4 linked regions of the Homo sapiens genome follow. The protein of the gene in region 1 interacts with the protein of each later gene in a biochemical or structural test. Each region holds a gene or a part of one and is shown in the gene's direction. Other genes may lie near its edges. The genes, in order: SYK, TRIM31, CD72 and HDAC9.

Region 1 (5,495 bases):
TGTGAGTTGGCAAAAGCATCAGGCGGGAAGGACTGAGTCTGTGTGTGCAGGAGGAATGCCTGCAGGGGAAAGTCACGGGCTCCGTCCCTGTCTCAGTTGGTGGGGGTGGCAGAGATGCCACAGCCGTGGCCAAGACTACGCTGGGTGAAAAGTGAGACTCTCTGGATTTGCCATACTGACTGAAAGCTGATATCTGAAAAGTGGAGCTGAGAACAGCAGCCTGGGCCACTGTGGGCAGTGACTGGAATGGAGATGGCCATTTCCTGCCAAGGTGGCCTGAGAAAGAGGAGGTTGGAGACCAGGACAAGGCCCCGGGTGGGTGCCGGTGGGTGCCAGTCCTGAGAAGGTATGCACAGGAACACCATGGACATTGTTTATTCCCCCAATTAAGTAGCCCAAAAATGTGCCATAAGCTGTCCTTGCAGTGAACCAGTGATTCTGCCCAAACCATCACCACCAACATACCCAGGTCAACTCCGGCACAGGAAGTCACATGGCCAGAAAAGGGCCATCAGCCACATCGGTGCTGACACTGAGTGCAGCACATTCTTCTGCCACCTGCTTGCGAACATATCTGCAATGCACCATCAAAGCCACACAGAGTGTCCCTGGCGTGTGCCTGGAGGTTGCTCCGGGTCTGCAGATGCTCCCCAAGACCCGACCACAGCCTGTCTCACTTCCTTTCCATTCACTTCAATATGGGATTCATGCCCAAGTGCCAGCACCGATGTAATGATTAGTGACAAGCCAATGAATTTTTAAAATAGTAGCTATGTTAAGATTTATATGAATTAAAAAGTATTTGCTCTCATTTTATTTAAAATTTTGTTCCTACAAAGTTACTGTCTCAGTTTGAGCTGATGGTGCAGTCTGCTGTTCTGCAACTACATAAAAAGTAACCTGGGCCCTGCAGAGGGGACACAAGCATCGGGGCCAGGTACACAGTGACAGGGGTATTTGAGCTGGGTCTGTAAGGATGACTGAGATGGCTGGGAGGAAGAGCTGCACGCCTCAGCAGAAAGCACACGTGGTGAGAACAAGAAGGGAAAGCCACAGCATCCCGGTGCAGTCCAGTGTGGTCTGTGGACTGGGCATGTTGGAATAGGCAGGAAGGGCTGATGTGCGCTTTGAGGGAGGACCGGGCAGCTGGAGAGGGAGGCGTCAGGAAGCAGGAGGGCAGAAGGTGAGGAGTGAAGGGCAGCAGTGGAAAGGACAGGGTTACGCCAAGCAGTGGTCATGGATATGGGCAGTAAGGAACATGCACCAAGGGCGCCTGGAAAACGAACCTTAGAGAACGCAAGTCCTGCGGAGGACTCCTGGGTTCCTGGCTGGGACACCGCCTGGGCAGGGAAGGCAGAGAAGATGGAGAACCTGGTCTCAGGTGGCATCAGAACCCAGCATCCGCATCACCAGGATTGCAGGAGCAGCAGCGTCTCAGGCCCTGGGTGTGTCAGAGCCCCCAGGCCACGTGGAAGTATGAGACGTGCTGGGCTGCAGGGGAAACAATGGAAATGAGGTTGGAGGCCCGAGAAGACCCACTGCAGGAAAAGGGTGGAGTGGGGGAAAAGCAGGCTGGGGGCAGTGGCTGGCCTGCAACAAAAGCATTGTAGAATGCAGGCGTGAGCCACCGCGCCCGGCCAAGGCGGGCAGATCATGAGGTCAGGAGATCGCGACCATCCTGGCTAATGCGGTGAAACCCCGTCTCTTCTAAAAAAAAAAAAAAAAAAAAAACTGTAGAAAGGGGAAAGCAGTCCAAAGAGAAGTATTTCTTCCAAGAGACTCATCAGCACACTGTGTTTCCAGAGATGTCTTTCTGTTAACAGCATTCTTAGACTCAAAAGTAAATGTAGATATACTTTAAAAAACAAAAACACCTTGCTAAGAGATGAATTTTTAGAAACTTGTTGGACAAAGAAAAGTCATTGATAGTCAACTGCTGTGAGAGGCAAGCCAGGAAATGATGATTAATACCCTCAAATTATAATAAAACCCATGCCTCATTAGGGGCTCGCCCAGGAGTACTGACTTGTGGATAGACACCGTCTGGGGAAAACTCTGTCGCCTGTGTCAGGCTGATGCTCTTACATTTTATAGCCCCTTGTAGGATAGTGCATGTTGAGAAGAAGCCGCTTCACATCATCGTGGTGCAGGATCTGTGGTGTGGTGTGCTTCATGTGTGTGTTTTGTGTGTGTAGTGTGTATGTAGTGTAGTGTTAGTTGTGTGTACTATGGTGTGTGTGTGGCATGTATGTAGTTTGTGTGTGGTGTGTGTGCAGTGTGTGTGATGTGTGTAGTGTGCATGTAGTGATGTGGTGTGGTTTGTGTGTGTTTTTATGTGTAGTGTGTAGTATGTGTGTTGCATGTAGTGTGTTGTGTGTCGTGTGTATGTAGTTTGTGTGTGTGGTGTGTTTGCAGTGTGTGTGGGTGTGTACTGTGTTATGTGTGTAATGTGTATGTAGTTTGTGTGCTGCACGTAGTGTGTTGTGTGTACTGTGTATGTAGTTTGTGTATACTGTGTGTAGTATGTGTGCAGTGTGTGTGTAGTTTGTGTATGACGTGTGCAGTGTGTGTAAGATGTGTGTAGTGTGTTGTGTGTGTAGTGTGTATGTAGTTTGTGTGTGTGTGGTGTGCGTTTAGTGCATGTGTGGTATGTGTCCATATGTGTGGCATGCATGTAGTGGGCATGTAGTATGGGGGTGTATGTGTGTGGTGTAGTGTGTGTGATGTGTGTAGTGTGCATGTAGTTGTGTGGTGTGTTTCGTGTGTGTTTTGTGTGTGTAGTGTGTATGTAGTGTAGCATGTGTTTAGTATGGTGTGTGGTGTGTATGTAGTTTGTGTGTGATATGTGTGTAGTATGTGTGATGTGTGTAGTGTGTACTGTGTGTGGTGTGTATGTATTTTGTGTGTGTGGTGTATGTGATGTGTGTAGTACATGGTGTGTGTAGTGTGTTATGTGTGTAGTGTGTTGTATGTGGTGTGTATGTAGTTTGTGTGTTGTGTGTGCAGTGTGTTATGTGTGTTGTGTGTGTAGTGTGTATGTAGTCTGTGGTGTGTGTGATGTGGGTAGTGTCCGTGTAGTACATGGTGTGTGTAGTGTGTGTGGTGTGTGTAGTGTGTTGTATGTGGAGTGTATGTAGTTTTTGTGTGTTGTGTGTGCAGTGTGTGATATGTGTAGTGTGTTGTGTGTGTGGTGTACGTGTAGTTGGTGTGTGTGATGTGTGTAGTGTCCATGTAGTACATGGTGTGTGTAGTGTGTGTAGTGTGTTGTATGTGGTATGTATGTAATTTGTGTTGTGTGTGCAGTGTGTGTTGTTTGTAGTGTGTTGTGTGTGTGGTGTGTATGTAGTTTGTGTGTGTGGTGTGTGTGTGATGTGCATAGTGTGCGTGTAGTGCATGGTGTGTGTGTAGTGCAGCTGTGGCATGTGTTCGTAGTGTGTGTGGCATGCATGTAGTGTCCATGTGGTATGGAGTGTGTGTGTGTGGTGTAGTGTATGTGATGTGTGTGGTGTGTGGTGTACCGTATGTGATGTGTGTAGTGCGCATGTAGTCATGTGGTGTGTTTCATGTGTGTTTTGTGTGTATGTAACGTAGAATTTGGTGTGTGCGGTGTGTTTCATGTGTGTGGTGTGTATGTAGTTTGTGTGTATGTGTATGTGTGTGGGGTAGTGTGTGTGATGTGTGTTGTGTGCATGCAGTGGTGTGTTTCATGTCTGTTTTGTGTGTGTAGCATGTATGTAGTGTAGCATGTGATGTGTGTAGTGTGTTTCGTGTGTGTGGTATGTATGTAGTTTGTGTGTTTGGTGTGTGTGATGTGCATAGTGTGCATGTAGTACATGGTGTGTGTGTAGTGCAGGTGTGGCATGTGTTCATAGTGTGTGTGGCATGCATGTAGTGTGCATGTGGTATGGAGAGAGTGTGTGTGTGTGTGTGTGTGTGTGTGTGTGTGTGTGTGTACCATGAGGGACATGCGCTTTGCTCCCTGGATAAATGGATGGAGTCATGTAGATAATTTTCCATTCACGACCAGCCCCTTTTGGTTAAAATGTGCCTCCTTGGATACTTTTGGGGCTGGCAATATGTATCCTTCTAGTTTACAACCATGATTGAGAGGGAATACTCTCCATGTTAAATATGCATTGGCCGCCTTTCTTTTTGCTTCTGAAATGTATTTATTTACTGCAAGCAGTGTCTCTCCTGTGTCAGATGTCCTCGTGGGCTGGGAACCGGCACTATCTCTTTAGCACGGGCCCTGCAGATGGGAAGTGGCGTTGCCCAGGAAGTGGTCTGGAGAAGCGGGGAGAAGACAGCCTATGGGCCCCAGGCCTCGGGAGCCAGGGAGGGTGTCACTCTTCATGTCTCAGGCAGTGGCTTGTTGCTATCATAGCCCCGGGCTGGAGGTGGGAAGGCCTTATGGTGACCACAAGTCACAGTTCCGTGTGGGCCCTCAACGTGGCCTCACTTCACCTCTGGGGCTCAGCACCAGCGTGTGACTGACTGCTCGAGGCAGCGTCTCGCAGCTCAGGTGGGTGAGGTGGTGGTAGCGTCCTCCTTGGTAATATCACTGTGATGAGGAGCAAGGCTTCTCTAACATTGTCTGGACTCAGGAGGAGCAGTTGGTTTGTTCTCATGTAGATTCTGCCTCCTGTATGCTGCTGGGACCCTGAGGGTCAGCCCAAGAGTCCTGTTTTGCAATAGCCCTTCTGTTTGCTTCTCTTTGCGGTATGTTTATTTTTAGAATTCTTTGTCTTTCCCCACTCCCCCCAAAAAAGAATTATTTAATTTGGTCACTTCCATCAAATGCTCTGATTTTAGCTTAGTTAGAAGGCATGCTGAAAACTGTAATGATGATGTGAACAGAAAGACAACTGTGTGTTGGGAGGGCCAAAGAGGGAAGTGCCTTTGTTCAGAGATGGGAGGGTTTGTCTCCACTTTGAAAGGGTTTGAGTGGTTTTAGCAAACGTTCCCTGCCACGTGGGGTCCTCACCAAAGTTCTCTGTCTCTGTCTTGCCCAGGTGGACACCTGCGCAGGTGTGTGCCCTCCGGCCCCTGAAGCATGGCCAGCAGCGGCATGGCTGACAGCGCCAACCACCTGCCCTTCTTTTTCGGCAACATCACCCGGGAGGAGGCAGAAGATTACCTGGTCCAGGGGGGCATGAGTGATGGGCTTTATTTGCTGCGCCAGAGCCGCAACTACCTGGGTGGCTTCGCCCTGTCCGTGGCCCACGGGAGGAAGGCACACCACTACACCATCGAGCGGGAGCTGAATGGCACCTACGCCATCGCCGGTGGCAGGACCCATGCCAGCCCCGCCGACCTCTGCCACTACCACTCCCAGGAGTCTGATGGCCTGGTCTGCCTCCTCAAGAAGCCCTTCAACCGGCCCCAAGGGGTGCAGCCCAAGACTGGGCCCTTTGAGGATTTGAAGGAAAACCTCATCAGGGAATATGTGAAGCAGACATGGAACCTGCAGGTGGGCCACAGCTGGTCCTGCTCCC
Region 2 (5,495 bases), on another chromosome or scaffold:
AAGTGGGCTAGAAGGACCTTCGAGGCCATCCTCTCACCCTCTGCCTGTCCCTGTTTCTTAGGACCAGGTAGAACATGAGAAGCAAAGGATCCTCACAGAATTTGAACTCCTGCATCAAGTCCTAGAGGAGGAGAAGAATTTCCTGCTATCACGGATTTACTGGCTGGGTCATGAGGGAACGGAAGCGGGGAAACACTATGTTGCCTCCACTGAGCCACAGTTGAACGATCTCAAGAAGCTCGTTGATTCCCTGAAGACCAAGCAGAACATGCCACCCAGGCAGCTGCTGGAGGTGAGTCCCTTGGGGGCAGAATTGCAGAGAGGTAGCAGCCCATCCCTAGTCTCAGGTCAGAGCATGGACCACTGGCAGAATACCTGAGATTGCCCCAACCATCCTACCTCTAGCCCAGTGCTGTCCAATAGCAATATGTGAGCCGCATGTATTAGAATGAAAATGTGAGCCACATATGTAATTCATAAATATAATTCTGGCCACATGTGTGATTTAGAAATGTAGTTTCAGCCACATATGGAATTACAAATTTTTCTAGTTAGTCACATTAAAATGATAAAAGTGAAATTAATTTTAATAAAATATTTTAACTCAATATATCTGAAATATTATCCTTTCAGCCTGTAATGAATATTTTAAAAGTATTAATGAGATATTTCACATTCTGGGTTTTTGGTGGTTTTTTTTTTTTTTTTTTTTACACTGAGTCTTTGAAATTGTGTGTATATTTTTCACTTTGGCACATCTCAATTCAGATGCTAAATTGTCAATTGTTAAAGTAAAATATAGTCTTACCAAATCAATAAAGTTGTGTTTAATGGAAAAAGTACTTTACCCTTCTTCTATTTATTTTATTTTATTTTTTGAGATGGAATCTTGCTCTGTTGCCCAGGCTGGAGTACAGTGGCGCGATTTTGGCGCACTACAACTTCCGCCTCCTAGGCCCAAGTCCCAAGTAGCTGGGATTACAGGTCCCCACCACCACGCCCAGCTAATTTTTGTATTCTTAGCAGACACGGGGTTTTACCATGTTGGCCAGGATGGTCTCGAACTCCTGACCTCAAGTGATCTGCCCACCTCAGCCTCCCAAAGTGCTGGGATTACAGGCGTGAACCACCGTGCCTGGCCTCTATTTTTAATTTAAATTTGAATTAGTAAAAATGAAATTAAAAATTCAGTTCTTTGTCACACTAGCCACAATTTCCAATGTTCAGTAGCCACATGTGGTTGGTGGCTACCATATTGGACAGTGCAAGTCTAGCTGGTGCTTAAAATAAGCTGAGATGATTCCTCCTCAAGTCATCTATTCTCCCACAGGTTCAAAAACCTATTTATTTATTTTAAGAAAGATCATGCAAAGCCATTCTAGCCTTTCTCCTGCCCTGGCTAGCAGGCTCCCTTGTTCAGTCTCAGAGCCAAATTCATCTTCTAAATCTCACTCTTCTCTTCTTCACTCAGTTCTTCTTGAGGTCAAAACACTTTTCTGCTTACTGGCAGAGCAGTGCTTCTTGGAGAAGCCCTTCGTGGTGGGGAGAGGGGAGGAGGATGGGGTAAGAGAGACTTGGAGGGGTTCTTACTCCTCCTGCTCTGCCCCACACCCAGCAGGCTCTGTATCTCCTCCTTGGCTCCTGGGAATCAGCCAAGTGCTGAGGCTGTGCTGTTTCTCTTTCTCTTCTAGGATATCAAAGTCGTCTTGTGCAGGTATGATGGGCCACCCCAAATGTATTTTGCCTACTGATTCATCCACACACAATTCTCAGCGTATATCCAAATGCAGTCAACATTCCTCTCTCAGAAATACCCACCCACCTCTAACTCTGCATTCATACATTTAGGCTGCAGCCGGGGAATGCCTATGCCAACCATATTAGCACGTGGTTGGTTGTTAAAGAAACCAGCTGTTTTCTCAGCCTTCCTCCTTCTTCAGCACAGATTCTACTATTTCCTGAATGCCCCCTTGCTCAACTGAATAGCTCCTGGGTCCCCTACTCTGTCTCCCTGACCCTGTTTTTTTCCCTCCTCTCTGTCTCCATCTCCCATCTTCATTTCCATATCTCCCTATGCCCTACCTCACTCCCGCCCCATATCCCTAGCCCTGACTTTCTGACTCCCAGCTCACTATCCCTTAACCGCCAGGTCTTCTTTTTTTTTTTTTTTTTTTTTTTTTGAGATGGAGCTTTGCTCTTGTTGCTCAGGCTGGAGTGCAGTGGTGCAATCTCAGCTCACTGCAACCTTTGTCTCCCAGGTTCAAGTGATTCTCCTGCCTCAGCCTCCCAAGTAGCTGAGACTACAGGCGCTTGCCACCAAGCCTGGCTAATTTTCATATTTTTAGTAGAGACCAGGTTTTACCATGTTGGCCAGGCTAGTCTTGAACTCCTGACCTCAGGTGATCCACCCGCCTCAGCCTCCCAAAGTGCTGGGATTACAGGTGTGAGCCACTGCTCTCAGTTCTACCCCCAGGTCTTCATCCCCTCATTTCTCAACCGCGTATCTCAGATCCTCCTTCTCCCACACCTCATCCCCTGATCTCACCAACCAGCTCAACCACATCTTCCTAGAAGTGAAGAGTTTCAGTTTCTCAACCCAACCCCTGTTCCTCTGGAACTGGAGAAAAAACTCAGTGAAGCAAAATCAAGACATGACTCCATCACAGGGAGCCTAAAAAAATTCAAAGGTAAGGAAGAGGCTGTATTTTCTCTATTCACCTACTTCCAGGAGATTCTCTCCCTGCTCACTCCACTGAAATGGAACTGTGACTCATACATGCCAACAATCCCTGGGCCCTTCTAGTGCCAGGCTTCTGGCTGAGTACTTTCCACGCATCAGTATGCCTCCTCCCAGGCATTTCTTATATTCTGTCTTTGTGATATGTTATTTATCTGCCTCCCTGACTCCTGCGAGAGCCATAGAGGGCCTGGACCTATTCCCCATGTGGACACCTGGCCTAGAGCAGTGGCTGTTGGGAAGTTGGTGATGAGTTGTCTGGTGGACCAGAGATGGCCTCAGGCAGGGACTGTCATCTCTGACTTCTCCTTCTCTGGTGCACACTGGTGTCTCCTCCTGCCTACAGAAGAAGAGAAAATAAATTCAAAATCAGTGACATTCTGGGGAGAAACCTCTTCCAGCCTTACAGGGAAACAGAAATCAGCAGAACAGTAGTGGATGACTTGGGTTTTAGATGTTCGCCAGATATTTTTCATAAACCTTTCTGTGTTTGCAACTAGGAAGAAGGGTTAGTATTTGTAAGGACTCCCCTTAATGTGAAGACTGTGTTGGTCTAAGGTGGGCATAAAGACAGCTAGATGGAATCTTCTGAAATTATCACCTGGAGTTCCACACCCACCTCCCCCACCCCAACCCCCAGCCCCCCATACACAAACACTTCCCCTTGGGACTACGGAAAAGGAGGACCAGGGCAATGCCCCAAGATCTCCACCCATTCAGCCGGGAATCTCCACTCGGCAGACATAAACAGGAAAGCATGTTTTGTTTTATTCTTAATTTTGTTGTCTGAGCTTTTCTTTTGTCCACTAACTGCTCTGCTTTGTCTAGCTCCTCCCACCCCACTGGGCATGATCTCAGCCGATCTAGCAACTTTATTTATTTGTTTATTTATTTATTTATTTTTGATGGAGTTTTGCTCTTATTGCCCAGGATAGAGTGCAGTGGCGCAATCTCGGCTCACTGCAACCTCCGCCTTCTGGTTTCAAGCGATTCTCCTGCCTCAGCTTCCCAAGTCGCTGGTGTTACAGGCGCACACCACCATGCCCAGCTAGTTTTTTGTATTTTTAGTAGAGACGGGGTTTCACCAGGTTGGTCAAGCTGGTCTCGAACTGCTGACTTGTGATCCACCCGCCTCAGCCTCCCAAAGTGCTGGGATTACAGGCGTGAGCCACCACGTCCAGCCCGATCCAGCACCTTTCTAGGCTCTTCAGGTCAAGAATAGTTTGGTTCTAGTTTGGAATTTCAATAAAGGAGCCCAGCCCTTTCCACTTCATCAGGTTTGGAGTTGGGGAGACTGGTGTGCTCTACTCTGTATCCCCCTTTTCTTTCCCTCTTTCACATACACAAACTCACACACACACAGTCCCCCAACTCCCACCTGGCCCTATTTCCTTCTTTTTTTTTTCTCTTATTTTTATTTTATTTTTACCCCAAAGAAGAAGGCACAATGGCCACCTGGCCCTATTAAAGCCTAGGAAATACAGGAGGTGGTAGGGAGTCTACTTATACCACAGGTCCAATCTCCACAGTTCTTATTATGAGGGTTGGTTCTCCCTGCTCGGGGTGACTGGGTCTGGAACACGTACGTGGAGAAGGGTGTGGCTGGGCCCTGAAGCCGCTAAAGGCCCTTGTAGGTGAAGTGCTCCCAGGCAGTGTTTCCTATGCTCTAGGTTTGCAGACCCCTCCTAAGAGGGCCCCCGCGTCTCCCCTGAGCAGTCCCCATGACTGGGCTGGTGGCTCTCAGGGAAGCTACCCACGCTTGTCCCACTACCTAGCCCCAGGCTGTCTTGTGCTGTCTTGGGGCTGCAAGACACTGGGGGAAGGGTGCTGGGGCCAGAAGTAGCTCCCCATCTAGGGGCTCCACCCTATAGTTCTCCACTCAGTCCAGCACCCCTACAGGAAATCTAGGCCAGGAATGGGCCATTGTCCCCAGCTTCTGGGCTCATCCTCTACCTGCAAAAGGAGTCTCTTCTGGCAGGGGTGAACTGGGAGATGAAGGCACTCGGCCTCCCCTTGCAGGAGCTCTGTCTTCGTTCCCCCTCTCAAGCCCTCTTTCATGGGAAAGAGGGCAGGACTGCCATCCAGGCTTTAGGAGAGTGGGGCCCCCCCTTACCCCACCTGGCTCCTGGGTGGTTAGCCCTACAGTAGGCCTTCTGAAGCTAAAGGGTGAAGCCTCAAGGCACTCTTTGTCCTGAGCACCTACCTTTGTCAGGCAGTGAGAAAGGGGCTAGCTCTGCACTGTCCAATTTAGTAGCTGCTAGCCACATGTGCTGACAGGCACTTGAAATGTAGCTAGTCCAAATTTAAACATGCTATATGTGAAGAATCATTAATTTCACAAGATTGAGTGTAAAAAGAGACTGTAAAAGATAGCAATAATTTTTATAATACATGTTGAAATAACATTTTGAGAATATTGAGTTAAATAAAATATATAATTAAAGTTAATTTTACTAGTTTCTTTCTACTTTTTAAATGTGACTACTAGAAAATTTAAAAATATATAAGTGGCTCACATTCGTGACTCAGATTACATTCATCATTCATACTGGACAGTGCTGGGCTAGGCAGTCACCACAGGAAATCAGAAAGGGCATCTCTCAAGGGTTGCATACCTTCCTGGTCCAATAAGAATATGAGAGTCAAATGCAGCTTCTACTTCTCCCAGGCATTTCAAATTAGTGCCTTGCTGTGTGATAGTGAGTTCTTTGCTCAACCCCTCTGGACTCTCACCATTTCATCCCATTCTTTATTCCCC
Region 3 (4,961 bases), about 55 Mb from region 1:
GCAAAAAGTTGCAAGAAGCAGAAAAAGGGCTGATGCTGCAGTCTCAGGGCACTAGGGCAGGGCTGGAGAAGACATCCACCAAATCTCTGTGGCCAAACAGATCTGCAGGTGTCTCAGCAGCTCCAGCAGACGAACAGGGTTCTGGAAGTCACTAACAGCAGCCTGAGGCAGCAGCTCCGCCTCAAGATAACGCAGCTGGGACAGAGTGCAGAGGATCTGCAGGGGTCCAGGAGAGAGCTGGCGCAGAGTCAGGAAGCACTACAGGTGGAACAGAGGGCTCATCAGGCGGCCGAAGGGCAGCTACAGGCCTGCCAGGCAGACAGACAGAAGACGAAGGAGACCTTGCAAAGTGAGGAGCAACAGAGGAGGGCCTTGGAGCAGAAGCTGAGCAACATGGAGAACAGACTGAAGCCCTTCTTCACATGCGGCTCAGCAGGTATCCGCTCTGGGGAGAGGAGAGAAGGGAGGGATGGATTGGAGCAAGGAGATAGTAGTGGCAGGAGTCTATCACCCAGGGGCCTGTGAGGTGTTCAGGAAAGGGGCAGTGAACCAGAGTGGTGGCTGACATGAGCTGTTCAGCCTTGGCCAACAGAGAGAAGGACCAAGCTGCATACTAGATTTAGGGGGACCCACCCAGCTCCAAGGCTCATCCTGTAGGGGAGAGGAGGATGGCAGCCAGCAGTCCAAATCACACTGTCCAAGGTTTCTTCCGGTTGATATCAGTGACAAGGATCTGGGAACGCCCCCAAATTTGGATGTGAACTTGGCGGTTTGCACATCTTTCTAAAGACAGGGACCTCATTTTTAATTAATTTTCGTTATAGCTGAGATCTCCCCAAAGGGTAAGACTTACTGGCTGACATGGAGTGCAACCTGGTGGTGGGGCAAGGCAGTGAGGCGCTCAGCACTCACAGTGAGGTGGAGCTGGGAGTTGTGGTGTAGGGAACTAGGATGGGGTGTCCATTCATTTTGAAAGCAGGACCCCAGCCAGTAAGTGGAGATGGGGAAAGGGACACATAAAAGAGGCAAGGCTGTATCAAAACAGGCTGAGGGTCTAGGCAAGGTGCCACGCCTAAGGGGACTGGGGTGTTTTTGGGCTATGATCAGGTTTAGGCTCTGTCTAGCTTGGGGGTCATCTGGGTGATCTCCCCAGGCATAAGACAGCAAGATTATGTGCAGACACCCCTTGCCCTCATTTCCTTAACCTTACCCTCTGTGACCATCAGTTCCATGCCAGGGCTGCTCTTAGCAGCATGTTAGACCTCTACCTCCCAAATTGCTCTTCCGGCGAAAGGATGGTTTCAGACTTCCACTCTGATCACAGCTGCCCACCACTCCTGCAGGTTTTCCCCACACTTTTTTGATCTCATCAAGGCCTCCAATCTGCTGACTCCCCTTTTTCTCCCTTCCCATCAGTCCAGGCCTCCAATCAACTGATTCCCCTTTTTCTCTCTTCCCATCAGCTTCTCCTGTCCACACTTCTCTCCCTACCTAACATGGGTTTGGAGCCCATCACTTCAACTACTCACTTATTTTTTTAAATAGAGACAAGGTCTCACTATGTTTCCCTGGCCGGTATCGAACTCCTGGACTCAAGCGATCCTCCTGCCTCAGCCTCCCAAAGTGCTGAGATTACAGTCGTGAGCCACCGCACCTGGCTCACTCACTTCTTTGTTCCATTATCCTTCTAGTGTACCTGATGGGCAAAATTTGAACTCTGGATGAACCCAACTGCCCATGGTCAGCATCAAGGTGTGACAAATTGTGGAATCATTCTGCTCAGTGCCACTGAGACTCTAGTCTCTCAGCACTGCCTGGCAACCTTTGCAATGGTCAGCTTGCTCTCCATAGTAACTCCTTCTCCCTCACTTTCAGCAGATGTCCTCATCTTCCACTCTTTCAGAGAGGAATTCCCTTCACTTTCCATCACCAAGTCTATATATCCATATGGATTTTTGCCCATCCTCATCTTTTGCAAGGATATCTGCAACAGCTTTCTAAATGTTTTTCCTACTCACTCCTCTCCCTGCAGTCCATTCTTCATATTGGAGCCAGGGTAATCTTTTACAAACAAAAATCTGATCGTGTCACCCAATCTACAGCATTCCAGTTAATTGATTACATAAACAGTTATGGAATACATAACATATAATATGTTCTAGCACTGTGCCCAGGCACTTGGGATATAGCTAGTGAACAAAATTCCTCTATGTAAAACCCTACACTGACTTTCTCTTCCTCATAATATAAAAATAAAAATCCTTAACATGGCTTCCATCACTCCTGCCTACCTTTCAGTGTGCCACTTATCTCCTCACCCTCTTCCATTTGGCCATACAGATTTCTTTTTTTTTTTTTTTGAGGCGGAGTCTCGCTCTGTGAGACTGAAGTGCACTCCCAGGCTGGAGTGCAGTGGTGTGATCTGGGCTCACTGCAACCTCTGCCTCCTGGATTCAAGCTATCCTTTTGCCTCAGCCTCCCGAGTAACTGGGATTATAGGCATGCGCCATGGTGCCTGGGTATTTTTTGGTATTTTTAGTAGAGGTGGGGTTTCACCATGTTGACCAGGCTGGTCTTAAACTCCTGACTTCAGGTGATCCACCCCGCCTCGGCCTCCCAAAGTGCTGGGATTACAGAAGTGAGCCATTGTGCCCAGCAGGGATTTCTTTTTATTCCTTTAAGTTGCCATAGGACAGTAGCTCAAGGGAGTAGCAGGGTGGGGACATGAGCATATGTAGAGAGAAGAGAGGGAGCTAGTGGAGAGGGAATGATTTTTGAGTGATGAAGGTAGGACTGATGGAACAAAGCAATGGAGAGAGGTGGCCTGGGATCAGAAGTGCACATTGGGATGTAGGATGTTGAAGAAAGAGGGATATTTATTTCTTATGGATAGTCAGGAAAAGAAGAACAGAGAAGAGAAATTTTGAGGTGGAGAGGAGGGAAAAGGAGAGAGCTCAGTTTCTGCAAAACAGTACACAACATTTTCTGCTTGTAGGAAATTGGAGAGGGACGGAGGGGGCCAGTGCTGGAGGAGTGGAGGATGTGCAGTGAGGGGTGCTTTAGGGAGTGGAGGAGATGGGCCCAAGAGATGTTAGGTAAAGTGTCAGGGTGGACTGCAATTGTTCAGAAATTGGGGTAATAAAATCAGCCCTATTAAGACAGACCTCCCAGATTGCTAAGAAGTAATGTTGTTGAATGTTAAAGTCTTTTTACTAAGTAAGGACAGGTATGGTGTTTCCAGGGGATGCAAAAGAAAGATTGCAAAGATCATAGAAGTCCATGAAGGTGCTGAGATTAGCTCTGGGGGAATATTGTTAGCAAAAGATTGCTGAGTAGTCACTTTCATCCCAACTGTTGCTGCTATCACACTCTTTCTGCTTTTTAGACACCTGCTGTCCGTCGGGATGGATAATGCATCAGAAAAGCTGCTTTTACATCTCACTTACTTCAAAAAATTGGCAGGAGAGCCAAAAACAATGTGAAACTCTGTCTTCCAAGCTGGCCACATTCAGTGAAATTTATCCACAATCAGTAAGCATATCCTTACTCACAGACTGCAGTGGGTACTATTAGGTAAAGGGACATATGTCATCAAGTCAGGAATGGCAGTGCACACATGGCTGGGGTGGCCATTCCTTTTCCATGGAAGAAACTGAGAATCATAATACTCTTGACCTCTGAGCTTGGAAACAACCTCTGCATCTTCTCAGCACAGTGGTCCAGGCAGCCCCTAGTAACTGATTAGAGTTGGCATGAGAATGGAAACTTAACCATATCTACATTTTTTTTTTTTTGAGACAGAGTCTCACTCTGTCACCCAGGCTGGAGTGCACTTGCATAATCTCAGCTCACTGCAACCTCCGCCTCCTGGGTTCATGCAATTCTCCCGTCTCAGCCTCCTGAGTAGCTGGGACTACAGTCACATGCCACCACGCCCAGCTAATTTTTGTATTTTTAATAGAGTCGGGGTTTCACCATATTGGTCAGGCTGGTCTCTAACTCCTGGCCTCAGGTGATCCACCTGCTTCAGTCTCCCAAAGTGCTGGGATTATAGGTGTGAACCACTGCGCCCGGCCTCTACTTTAATGTGTATCTCATCTCAGCTTGCTGGTCAGCTCCCTGGGCTGCTTGACAGGTTCCTGGACTCTTGTGGCCTCTCAGGCAGAGAGGTCCCACACCTGGTGGGCTGGATTGTAGGGATTAGTTCCTTGGGGCCAGAACAGCACACAGAATGACTCCCCTCCAAAGGCTGGCAGAGATTCTTACTCAGCTGGAAGGCAAATTTAGCAGTGAGCCTGCATCTGCAGGGTGGCACTTGATGGATTCAGGGACAAGTTACCAAAGAGCTGTCATATATACAGCCCCCTTGCCAAAGCTGAGGCCTCCCTAGGGTGTGCATTTTCTTCCATATTTCTCATCACTCTCCATGTATCTCTGGTCTCTCTGAATCTCCCCTCAGCACTCTTACTACTTCTTAAATTCACTGTTGCCAAATGGTGGTTCAGGGAATTCATATTGGACTGGCCTCAGCTCTAACAAGGATTGGAAGTTGACTGATGATACACAACGCACTAGGTAAGTTTGTTAGGACTTCTGGGTATTTTCAACTCCATAATCCCCTCCATAAAGACATGGTAATCAGATTTCCTTCCCACCTGGTCCCCTCAGGACTCTCCCATAAATCAACACTGTAATTGCCTATTTGTCTGTTTCCTCTATTTGATTAATAACTTCTTAGGGCAATCTTATTCTCCATTCTATTTCCACCTAGAAGTCCCTGGCACATACTTTTTTGTTTCAGTAACTACTAGGTTGGGACCTACGCTATCTTTTAGGGGGAGACATTAAGGATTTAGTTAAGGCTCCACAGCTGATGACAGCAGCGTTTCTCCATCCTTCGAGAAGGCCACCCAAACTGAGGTTGTACTTTCTCAGTAGCGGCCACTTGGGGCACTAGAGCT
Region 4 (5,495 bases), on another chromosome or scaffold:
CTGGTAGCATCACTAATTCACTAATTTTCTTACAGTTTATACCATGTATCTGTTTTCTTTGGCTTCTTATCTTTTCTTAAAATTGTGTGTGTGTGTATGTGTGTGTGTGTGTGTGTGTGTATACACACATATACATGTATTTTTTTTTTCAGGTGGAGTTCCCTTACATCCTCAGTCTCCCTTGGCAACAAAAGAGAGAATTTCACCTGGCATTAGAGGTACCCACAAATTGCCCCGTCACAGACCCCTGAACCGAACCCAGTCTGCACCTTTGCCTCAGAGCACGTTGGCTCAGCTGGTCATTCAACAGCAACACCAGCAATTCTTGGAGAAGCAGAAGCAATACCAGCAGCAGATCCACATGAACAAAGTAAGCCTCCAAGCCAAGTCAAAATGTTCTAACCGCCAGTTTGGAAATTGGGTATCTCTTCACTGATATGGGTGTCTAAGAGGAATGTTGATGGGAGTCACAGCAAAAAGGATGTGATCATCCTAAGCCTGCTTTCTTGGCTCAAGGACACCATCACAATATCAGTGTTTTAACCACCATTATGTTCATAAGACATTTGTAGCAAAATTGAGATGATACATTCACAAGATCTTTTTATGATCAGGTATATATTTTGGTACACAAGCCCATACGGGCATATGTATATGGAGCCTCATTTTTTAGTGTTGCAGAAAAAGTTTGAGGCAGACTTGAATGTGGTGTGTTGACATGTCAAAAAGTTTGTACAGGTGATGACAGATAGGCCAAGATTAGCCAGTAAGGCACTTCTCAGCAACTTGTATGCATCTACGTTACATTTATTTTGCGAATGCCCCACTTCATTCCAATAAGCGTTTGGAGTAGTTTCTCGGAAACTTGTGATCATTTCTTCCTGGAAGTCTTAATGTTGCTAAAATAGACAGCGGATGTCTGTACCGTACCACATCCTTAGGAGCTCTCCTGCTGAGGCAACTACAAAGAAACAGTGATTGCAGCATAATATCAGACAGGCCAGTAAAGGATTTTCTATGAATTCGTAAGCAAAATGATATTAAAGAACCTGGTCTGGACAGTTTTTCCACTACTTTTTGCTGTGGTAGGCTTAAAAAAGCACCATCTTCTCATTCCTGGAAAATTCCTGGAAAATATTAAGGTCCTGAGTATTAAAATTCTATTCCCTTGCCTTTGTGCTGTATCATCTACAAGTTATGTTACAGAGGCATGAGAGGCATGATATTGCAAACTGATACTTTGTTTACTGATAAATGGATAGCTAAAACCTGGCTTAGTAATAACTTTGTTGTACTATGATGTAAGAAACAAACAAAACAAAACAAAATAAACTCTCATGGGCAGAGGCTTAATCATCTTTCTAACGGCAGTAGGGGAAAGGGATCTTCATCACTTGCTGGTTTTATGGCAAGTGTTGCTGGAGTTTTTCTCTTCTTTTGGCCTCCATCGTAACAAGGGCAGAGCCATGAAGGAAGCATGGATTGGATACCATGCTTCCGAACAGAAAGTTTTCCAGCCTAGCCCTTCGCTACTCTCAAAGTAGCAAAAGTATGTGTGGGATTGGGGTGCTAGAGATGGGGTGGCTGGCAGGGACAACTCTCTCTCTAACCTTTTAGTATGCATTGCAGACCCTTTCTGTGTCATTAGATAATGCCTATTTTATTGCTGTAGCACTTCTCTAAATTTAGCAAATATTTCGGTTTCATATCAAATTATTTTATATCAAATCAGTATCTTCAGGAGAGAGCCAATTTCCTTCTCTGACTAATGGCATAATACTCACTGACTTGTATGTGACTCTGCATATGTTTTCTATATTATGGTAGAGTTAGGTTTGTTTATTTGTTTTGTGGCCTTTCAGCACAACTTAAAATTATTAGGTATTCTTGAAAAATTGTCCACTGTTTAGTGCAAGAAATGTATGTGGGAGGGAAGATTAGGGATCGTATTTTTTTGCCATATAGTGTTTTGATCTAGAATTAGGTTTGTTTATAAAACCAGTATTAGATAGTAGATAGACTTTTCTGCTATGCTTGGTTCTATTTCCTAGAAACACATGGATGTATATATTTTACTATGGTAAAGTAGGTAAATTACTCACTTTGAAATTGTGATCCACAAATGGTTTCTATGAATACCTTTAAGAATATTTTGGAATACAGTTTTTTATTAACTAATTGCCACTGTTTCAGATTCAGATGGTGTGCTAATATCAGAATCTTTCCTTTTCAGTATCAAACTCGAGATTTTGACAGGCGAATGCTAACCTCAGTCACACTGGATAAAACTCAGATGAAAAGCAGGCATTTGCATTTTAGCAATGAGAAAAGCAAATCTTATCAGAGACCTTTTCCCATGTGGAGCTGATTCCTTTGAATCTGTTAAGAATTCTTCCCAGAATTAGAAACAAACCTATACTTTTAGGTACATGTTTGTACAGTGGTTTGATTATTAAATCTTGTCTTAATTAGGCAAAATGAAGACCAGAAAACTTCAAAGTCCAAAGCTGATCTTTATATGTTAACCTCTCTCAGCTTGGGTGTTTAGATGACTCAAGCAGGTCGCCAGTTGGCTTTTCTCCAAGGATGTATTCCATATGTTTCATCAAGTTGGCATATTCACGTTGGGTATTCTCCAGATTTTGAAAATATTTTACCTGCCCTCAGTTGTCTAAGGGGACAGAGAGGAAGCTTATTAAAGAAAATATCAAACCCATGTCCTATCCTGAAATATTCACAATAGAACGCTTAAGAAGTGAGTGGCTACTGTTCACCTGCTTCCGTGACGTGACAAGGATGTTTATTTCACATTGGGTCAGATTCATAACTTAGATGCCCAAAGCTAACATGTTTCTGTATAATATATTGCTGTATACTTGATTTAACCATTTAGAATGCCCATTAGTAAGAAATCACCACAGAAATTTTATCATTTTTCCCCATTTCCATGGATGAACCTTTATGAAACCCATTCATACTGAAGCGATGGTCCTTACTCTTGAGATACTTATAGCAGGAAATACAGGCACACATGAAGATGTTGACATACAAATGACATATTTAAATATATCTTCTTTTATTTCCTTTTTATGATTCTTTTTTGAGGAATTTAGAGAAACAAAAAATGAAGTGGGAACAAGAAAATATAAGTAGGATTATTTCTAAACCTGTATCAGATTAAATATGATGGGCTTCCTGGTATAAAATTTGTAGTAATGTGTTTGAATTACTAATAATCTTTAGAAGAATTAGAAACAAAGCTATATAGTTTTAGGGGCATGGGTGATGCAAGGATTGACTTATTAAATTTGAAAGAGTTTTTCATATCTTGCTATTATTTTAATGTGTTTATAAAATATTCATGTTCAGTGTAACTACATAATGTAACTGTTATTAATCATACAAAATAATTTACCTACTTGTTGCCTTATACTTTAATATCATATTTGGGATATTTGTGGGATAGTTGTGTGTTCTAAGATTATTTGCCTCTTACAGTTACGGTGTAAGTGTTCAAGGGCTTAGCAGAAATATCCCTGGAATGGGCTTGTATAGTATTTATACTGTTATATCTGCCAGTAAATAATGGGGAAAGTCAGAAAGGAGAGTGCTGGGCTGGAGAGGAAACCCTGTGAGAATGATTTATCTCTGCTCATGAGTTTGAATATTCTATTTTTCACTGAAACTGTTTTGAGAAGTTTAATCATAAAGAAATCAAGGCTTACAACATTTGATCTTTTGTTTTCTGAGACATTTTACAAATCAGAAATGCATTAAACAGGTTCTATTGCTAATATATGGTATTAATATTTTTGTGCAATGATGTCATTGCACATTCATTTATATCATTTTTCCCCAATACCATGGAAGAACCTTTTCAAAAAATCAAGAGTTTCTTTATACCAGCATCAAGGGAAGACTGATGCTTTTGCCAGTACACCTTGCTTTTCTGATTGGAGGAAAAAAGAGTTTCTAAAGTAGAACTTCCCTCAAATACAAAATATCAAACAAAAAGTAATAAGGTATTGGTAATTTTCTCCTGGGCCCATTTCAAGTTTAAATATTACCACAGGATTTTTTTTCTGGTGAAATAAAACTGTAATTGATTAAAACAGAATACGTAACAGTTGTTTAGACATACTGATGATTTTAAAGAAGTATTCTAAGCACTGCCTAAAAAATAAAAGGGCAAATCTCTAGTCACTTCACTATTTGAATGATATATAGAAAATTTTCAAAATCTCTTTAGGCATTTTTGTTGTGAGGTAATTTGACATAGATCTCTGCCATGCCCCATCCCCTTGACAACATTATTCTTTATTTCTCTGTTATAGTATTAATAGAATTGCACTGATTCATGCCTAGCAGTTTCTATTTTAACTAGAATATTAATATCTTTATTAATATCTGTTTTTCATATTCATTCCATTAAATCCATAAGAGCAGGAATTTTAAGAAAATTCATACTTTGTTTAGTAGTTACTTTAATGAATTATTAATCTATGTATGGATGCGTTAAACAAATCATTAAATACTGTGTGCAGACACAGTTTTAAGCACTAAGAAAACAACCTTCAGTGTCCTCATGGAGCTTATAGGATGGGGAGCAGGAAGTGAATTATTGAAATAAACAGTAATACAGGCCGGGTGCAATGGCTCATGCCTGTAATCCCAGCACTCTGGGAGGCCGATGTGGGTGGATAAGCTGAGGTGGGGAGTTCGAGACCAGCCTGACCAACATGGAGAAACCCCGTCTCTACTAAAAATACAGAAAATTAGCCGGGCGTGGTGGTGCATGCCTGTAATCCCAGTTACTCAGGAGGCTGAGGCAGGAGAATCGCTTGAACCCAGGAGGCAGAGGTTGCAGTGAGCTGAGATCCTGCCATGGTGCTCCAAACCTGGGCCACAAGGGTGAAACTCCATCTCAAAAAAAAAAAAAAAAAACCAGTAATACAGTGTGTTAAGTATTAGGAAAGGAGACATAAGAAAGAAAACTGATATCTTTAAGGAAATAAAATTTGAGTTAATTACTTCTCTGGATTATCTTGTTCTTATTATATCTCACTCCCTTTCTTTTTCTTTCTTGCTTGCTCGCTTGTTCTCTTGCTTTCTTCCTTTCTTATATGCTCTGTGATAAATATCTTGTGCATTCCTATGACTGGCTATCAGCCAACACTTTTTTAAAAACTTACATAAATCATGAGATGATATCTTATATATGCCAAGGTTCGGTCTAGATATAAGTATTTATTATATATTTATTACTGTGATACTTAGGCATTTTGACATGAGTGCTATTTTATCATAATAAAAATATATCTAAGACAAGACCAGTAAATGTGAGGTCAAGCAGATGTACTGTGTTGCCCTTATTAAAACAGGTAGATGTTATGTTTATGTTCTGACAAGCAAGGCATGAATATAATTATGCTCAAATGCTGGATCTGAGCAAATGGAGAGCTTTCATTAGCTTTTGGAAGAGAATTTGACTGTTT

The links.
Region 2: the proteins of SYK (region 1) and TRIM31 form a complex in vitro, tested with the Homo sapiens proteins (one study listed by BioGRID).
Region 3: of the proteins of SYK (region 1) and CD72, one has a biochemical effect on the other in vitro, tested with the Homo sapiens proteins (one study listed by BioGRID).
Region 4: the proteins of SYK (region 1) and HDAC9 form a complex in vitro, tested with the Homo sapiens proteins (one study listed by BioGRID).

The regions. Positions count from the first base shown.
Region 1 is NC_000009.12:90,838,846-90,844,340, forward strand, and holds part of SYK (tyrosine-protein kinase SYK), read left to right. Parts: intron 1-5,012; 5' UTR 5,013-5,053; coding exon 5,054-5,470; intron 5,471-5,495. UniProt on the Homo sapiens protein: Non-receptor tyrosine kinase which mediates signal transduction downstream of a variety of transmembrane receptors including classical immunoreceptors like the B-cell receptor (BCR).
Region 2 is NC_000006.12:30,105,245-30,110,739, reverse strand, and holds part of TRIM31 (E3 ubiquitin-protein ligase TRIM31), read left to right. Parts: intron 1-61; coding exon 62-292; intron 293-1,691; coding exon 1,692-1,714; intron 1,715-2,552; coding exon of another isoform or gene 2,553-2,571; coding exon 2,572-2,687; intron 2,688-2,952; exon of another isoform or gene 2,953-3,077; intron 3,078-5,352; exon of another isoform or gene 5,353-5,495.
Region 3 is NC_000009.12:35,611,418-35,616,378, reverse strand, and holds part of CD72 (B-cell differentiation antigen CD72), read left to right. Parts: coding exon of another isoform or gene 1-33; exon of another isoform or gene 34-100; coding exon 101-436; intron 437-3,385; coding exon 3,386-3,531; intron 3,532-4,459; coding exon 4,460-4,575; intron 4,576-4,961. UniProt on the Homo sapiens protein: Co-receptor of B cell receptor (BCR) that plays both positive and negative roles on B-cell functions. Recognizes the Sm/ribonucleoprotein (RNP) self-antigen ligand, and coligation of CD72 and BCR inhibits BCR signaling.
Region 4 is NC_000007.14:18,648,314-18,653,808, forward strand, and holds part of HDAC9 (histone deacetylase 9), read left to right. Parts: intron 1-152; coding exon 153-370; intron 371-4,816; exon of another isoform or gene 4,817-4,923; intron 4,924-5,495. UniProt on the Homo sapiens protein: Responsible for the deacetylation of lysine residues on the N-terminal part of the core histones (H2A, H2B, H3 and H4).